Linked DNA regions of Homo sapiens: region 2 is linked to region 1. The links come from fine-mapping of genetic effects on gene expression. A gene starts in region 1. The other region holds a variant in brackets. All regions are shown on one strand. Distances are from middle to middle. Region 1 holds the start of JADE2 (jade family PHD finger 2). Region 2 has its middle 10 kb from the start of LINC01843.

What was found.
Region 2: its variant is fine-mapped to the expression of JADE2 in cerebellar hemisphere (GTEx, PIP 0.95).

What each region holds. Positions count from the first base shown.
Region 1 is chr5:134,524,236-134,527,136 of GRCh38, reverse strand. It overlaps JADE2 (jade family PHD finger 2), which reads right to left and starts at 1,467. Exons shown (of 12, transcript NM_001388185.1): 1 at 1,126-1,467. It overlaps LOC124901070 (a long non-coding RNA gene), which reads left to right and starts at 1,535. Exons shown (of 3, transcript XR_007058942.1): 1 at 1,535-1,671; 2 at 2,054-2,231. RefSeq lists silencers at 1-997, 1,008-1,267, 1,298-1,377, 1,508-1,727, 1,748-1,797 and 1 more.
Region 2 is chr5:134,495,059-134,497,959 of GRCh38, reverse strand. No RefSeq gene overlaps it. Among named protein-coding and RNA genes, the nearest start is that of LINC01843, 10 kb to the left of the region's middle. The variant A/T (reference allele first, on the strand shown) is at 1,575.

The DNA.
Region 1 (2,901 bases):
GCAGCAGCGCTAGGTGGGGGCGGGGGCTGCAATGTCACTCATTTGAGAGTCAGGTGTGTGCGTCCCAAACGGGGTCCGCCACAAGCCGGCATCTTCCTGGTACCACCCATGGTGCAGGGCCCTAGGCAGAGGGCTGGGGACTGCGGATCCGTCCCTGAAGCGGGACGCGAACCGGCAGAGTTGGGAGAAGGTAAACAAGGGCCACGCCCCCTGCCGTCGCCCCGCGGGCGCGCACCCGCCGCTCCGGCCGCCGCCGGTACATTTCCACTCTCCCAGCGCCTCTCCCCAGCTGGACTACCGCGCGGCCCCGGAGGTGGAGGCTGCCCCCGACCCCAGTCCTCACCCCTGGCGCCGAGGCTCCGCACCCTCCACACTCACCTGGAAAGGGTGTCCCCCGCCCCTCCAAAAAAACTGTCTAATTTGTGCAGAGCCTCCAACCCCAGGAGCCGAGCATGCTGCCCCCGCGTGCAGCGCCCGCGTGCACCGGGCCGGGAGAGGGGGCGACAGGGCGGAGGCGGTGGCCCCCGGAAGGTGTCTGGGACCGGACCGGCTGCACGTGAGCCCAGCGCGAGGTCATGTGCACCGGCTCAGCCCGGTTCGGCGCCCGGACGTGCTGCGTATCAACAAAATGAAACTCGGGGAGACAGGAGGGCAGATAGCTCCAGGTTCTCGGAGCCCCCGCCCGGGCCGCTCGACCTCCCCACCGTACCCATCTCCCGCCGCAGCCCCTACGCCCGGCCGGAGCCCGCGGGGAAGTTGCAGCCCTGGCGCGCCCCCGCCCGCCCGCGCCCCCTCGCCGGCCCGGGGGCGCTTTGCCGCAGTCATTAATAAAGAAGGTCGCCAAGCTCACCCTTCCAAAAGTTGTTGTTGCATGCGCCCCTCTCAGCCTCCCCGCACTGTACTCTTTAAAACACGACTGACCAACATGCGCAATCTCTCTCCCCTGTGCTGTGCATCCCCCCCCTCTCCGCGCTGGCTTCCTAGAACAGGCAGCCAGCAGGAGAGAGAGGGAGCGAGCGAGCAAGAGAGAGCGAGGGAGCGAAGAGCGCTGGCAGATCTGTTGCAAAAACGCCAAATAACGTCGTGGAGATGCGCAGGGCCCATCCGCCGGGGGCTGGATCTTACCTTGCTCCGCGGTGCCCCCCTGACGGGCGCTGCCCTCGGCTACGCGCCGCTGCAGGGACCGGCGCGGGAAGGATGCTCCCGAAGCCGGGAGCTCCTGGGGCCGGCGCGGGAGGGCGGGGGGCGCGCATCCATCCGGGGTCGCGGCGAGGGAGGCGGCCGGGCCCGCGGCGTCCCAGGCCCCACGCCCCCCGCCGGGGACGGTCGGCCCGCAGGACCTAAGCCGGTGCCGCTAGGAGTGGGCGCAAAGTAACTCCATGGACGCTACTCACCCCCCCCAAAAAATAGCCTCCAACTGCGATGGCCGCGGTCGGCACCATTCACCAACCCCCTGTGTATGTTTCTGTTTCTTTTTAAACCAAGACTTCCTTGTGATCTCTTTAGAAAAAAAAAATGTGTTGGGGTGGGGGTGGGGTGGGGGCGGGCAGGAGGAGCGAGGGAGGGGGAGTAGCCACTTTTTTCTTATTCACTCGGATCTCCGCTCCCGACACCCCCGTCGCCGCCCCCCCAACCCCCCGCCCAGTTGTTTGGCTCCGGCGGGGAGTCCAGGTAGCGTTGCGGGCCCCGTGGGGGAAGGGTGCCCTCCCTCGCAGCCCCACCACCACGCCTGCTGGCACCCTGGGCCCGGACTCCCCATGGACTCTGGGGCGCCCCTAGCCCGCCCTGTCCCCAGGGCCGGGCCCGAGCGGCGGCTGCGCCCGTGCAAGTCCCATCAGGTCTGCTCACACTTCACACACTCACACACATACCCCGCCCCTCCACTCTTTCACTCACACTTTCTGCTCACACCCCGCCCCCTACGCGCCCCAGACCCGGGCGGCGCCCCCCGCAACCTTAAAAAAAAAAAAAAGCGAGCTTATACTTAAAAAAATCTTTTGGCGCCATATTAATGACGTACTTAAAATTTGCCATTTCTCCCTGCGTCAAAAAGACGTTTCTTTGCAAATAACAGCCTGGAGGCGACACTCGCGGAGGGAACGAGGTTTGCACTGAGCACCCCGCCCCCCGGGGCTCCAGCGCTGGAAGACCCTCGCCCTAGGCCCTGCTTCTGAATCGCTGGTTTTAAAATGCGAATCGAATAAATTGCGTGGCGTTTTGCAGCACCAGAAGTGAGCAGAAAGTGCTGGCAGGAGGGGAGTGGAGGGGCGAACGCGAGTCTTGGGGAGGGGGCGCGGCCCTCCTCCCCGCACCCACTCCAAATGGAAAACTAACATTCCGGGCGGGGGAACTTGAAATTGTAGGCGACCTCAAGAAAAGAGGGGCGGTCCGTAGAGAGGGTCCCCATTGGGCTCGTCGCCCCCTCCCCCCTCCCGGGTGCCTCCTGGCGCCTAGCGCTGCCCCGCATTTCCGGGGGGTGGAGAAGGCAGTGATGAGCGGGTGGGTGGGTGGTTGCACATCCTGGCCCCAGCAGGATTTTGCCCCGGGGCGACCCCTTCCTCCTTGCTCTTCCTTCCCATTACCCCGAAAGGGTTAAAAACCGAGGGGTAACTTCCAAAGGCTGGCACATGGCGAGGAAGCGGGGCGCCCCTCTCCCCACCCTTCGCCTCCTCGCCCCTCCTCCTCCGGCTCCACTTCCCGACTTGACCTTGTGGTGCACAAACAGTACGCTCGGATCCTCGCAGTTTCTGGAAGAAGAGCCTGCGCTCGCCAGGCGGGCGGGCTGTCGGGCTGCTAGCCGGCGGTGGCGGGGCCTTGGGTCTGTTCCCGGAGCCGCGGGCCACACCCACCCAACCCGCTGCGCCCGCCGAGCTCACCTTCTCTCGAGGAAGGAGAAGGACT
Region 2 (2,901 bases), 29 kb after region 1:
GGGTTGTTTCCAGCTTTGACTATTACAAATTGTGCATGTCTTTGGGACACATATGTATGCCTTTCTGCTGAGAATATGTATTTAAGAATGGAGTTGTTAGGCCATACGGTATGCCTATGTTTAACTTTAGAGGCTACTGCTGAACAGTTTTCAGGTTATTTTACCGGGGGTTAATTTTTTTTAACAGCACAGGCTGAAACTTCAGGTGATGTTTTTAGAACTACTTATATTGGTGGTGAAAGGCAACATCTCAACCTATTTCTCAGGCTGCAAATACTTGCCATGTCGACTCTAAAAGAGGTCCAGAAATGCTGCCCATGGAGCCTCTTCTGAACCCTATTCTTTTTTTTTTTTTTTTTGAGACGGAGTCTCACTCTGTTGCCCAGGCTGGAGTGCAGTGGCACAATCTTGGCTCACTGCAACCTCCGCCTCCCAGGTTCAAAGTGATTCTCCTGCCCCAGCCTCCCAAGTAGCTGGGATTACAGGCGTGCACCACCACACCCGGCTAATTTTTGTATTTTTAGTAGAGATGGGGTTTCACCATGTTGGCGAGGCTGGTATGGAACTCCTGACCTCAGGTGATCGGATTACAGGCGTGAGCCACCACGCCCGTCCTTTCTGAGCCCTATTCTTAATCTGCACATCAACTCTGCTGAGCTCTGGCTTATTGAGAGTGTGTGGGGCCTGCAGAGCACATGCAATACCAGGTCCTTTGCCCGAAAGGCAACACTGTCCTCAGTGGGGCCCGCAATTTCACAACCCAAATCAGAACATGGAGTCTGACAGCTAAGCAGGATATTTGAAGCTGGGACTATCCTAGGAAGCCAGTTTTTCTCTCTCTCTTTTTTTTTTTTGTTTTTGTTTTTGTTTGTTGAGACAGGGTCTCACTCTATAGCCCAGGCTGGGGTGCAGTGGCGAAATCTCGGCTCACTGCAGCCTCTGCCTTCTGGGCTCAACTGATCTTCTTGCCTCAGCCTCCCAAATAGTTAGGACTGGTCAAGTTGCTCTTGAACTCCGGGACTCAAGCCAGCCTTAGCCTCCTAAGGTACTGGGATTACAGGCATGAGCCACCTTACCTGGCCAGAAAGCCTATTTTTCTTTTTTTTCTTTTTCTTTTTTTTTTTGAGATGAAGTCTCACTTTGTCACCCAGGCTGGAGTGCAACGGCATGATCTTGGCTCACTGCAACCTCCGCCTCCTGGGTTCAAGCAATTCTGCTGTCTCAGCCTCCCAAGTAGCTGGGATTACAGGTGTGCGCCACCACACCTGGCTAATTTTTTTGTAGAGACGGGGTTTCGCCATATTTCCCAGGCTGGTCTTGAACTCCTGGATTCAAGCGATCTGCCCGCCTAGGCCTCCCAAAGTGCTGGGATTCCAGGCATGAGCCACCTCGCCTGGTCGGGAAGCCTATTTTTCTAATAATGGATGAGAACAGTGAGGCTCCAATATGATGCTAACGTTATCACATGGTACTGTAAATATAACCAGTGCTTGGGTAAGCATAGGCACAGAGAAAACAACAACAACATAACCCAGCCCGCCCTGCGACTGAACAGACCTCTCTACTTGTGCCAA[A/T]TTCCTTCCACCTATGTAACTGACTTAGCTCAGAACTGCTGGGGGATTGGCAGGCTGTTTTCAGAGAGAGGCAGGGAAAATCCCCATCTGGTCCCTTTCTGAGATGCTTCTAATTCATGGGACCTCATGTCAGTCTCCCTGGCCTAGGTCTTCAGCCCCTAGAAGGGATGGAGCTGATTGCGTCTCTAGTAGAAACTCGCCTCTGTATTTTCCTTGGGAAAGAGAGTGGCTCCCTTAAGGTTTGGGTAATTATTTCCATCAGTTTGAAGGACTGGACATTAAGGGCAAGAATCATGGGGCCGGGCGCGGTGGCTCACGCCTGTAATCCCAGGACTTTGGGAGGCCGAGGCGGGTGGATCACAAGGTCAGGAGATCAAGACCATCCTGGCTAACACGGCGAAACCCCATCTCTACTAAAAATACAAAAAATTAGCCAGGCGTGGTGGCAGGTGCCTGTAGTCCCAGCTACTCGGGAGGCTGAGGCAGGAGAATGGTGTGAACCCGGAAGACGGAGCTTGCAGTGAGCCGAGATGGTACCACGGCACTCCAGTCTGGGCGACAGAGCGAGACTCTGTCTCAAGAAAAAAAAAAAAAAAAATCATGGTTAGTTTGCTATTCACCGGTGCGAGCAATGAAGTTCAACCAGTACCCATGGCCCCCTTGGGTTCTGGATCATTGTTGTGAGGGACTGGTCTCCCTGGAGACTGTCTTTGAGGAGTCCTGGGCCAAGAATGGGTGGGGGCTCTCAGCTTGAGTATTACCATGATGCCAGGAAATAGTTATTTATTTCTTTTTTTCTGGGCCTGTGCTTACCCAGGAAATATTTCATAATAGACCCAGGTTAGTTTCTTCAGCTCCACATAGCCAACAAGTGTACTTGGCTAGATATCCCCATCAACCATTGCCCCAGCCATATGATCAGGTTGTTTGCAGGCTGAACCTCCCCAGACTGGCTTCCATGGGCTTATTCCTGAGCTTTGGTGAGGTTGGGGAATGGTACCAGAGTTCCTTCATCCAGACACCTGGTCTCTAGATTGCTGCTGAATAGCCCTGGCCATTGGTCAGTTGACCCTCCGTCTTCTCTTTTGTATAGTGGGAAGATAGCGGGGGACTTGCCTTACCCTGGGGCTCTGAAGAACTACTGGACCAGAGAGAAGACCCTCTGGTGATTTCATTATGGACATTCCCAAGGAGTTGGCTCTAGGCTGGTGCTTTGACAGGGTGTGTGGGTGAGAGCCAATTAGAACATTTTTAGCTGCAAGTGATATAAAACTCATCCAAATTGGTTTAAGCAAGAGACCTATTTATTTGTTGGTTGGTTTTGTTT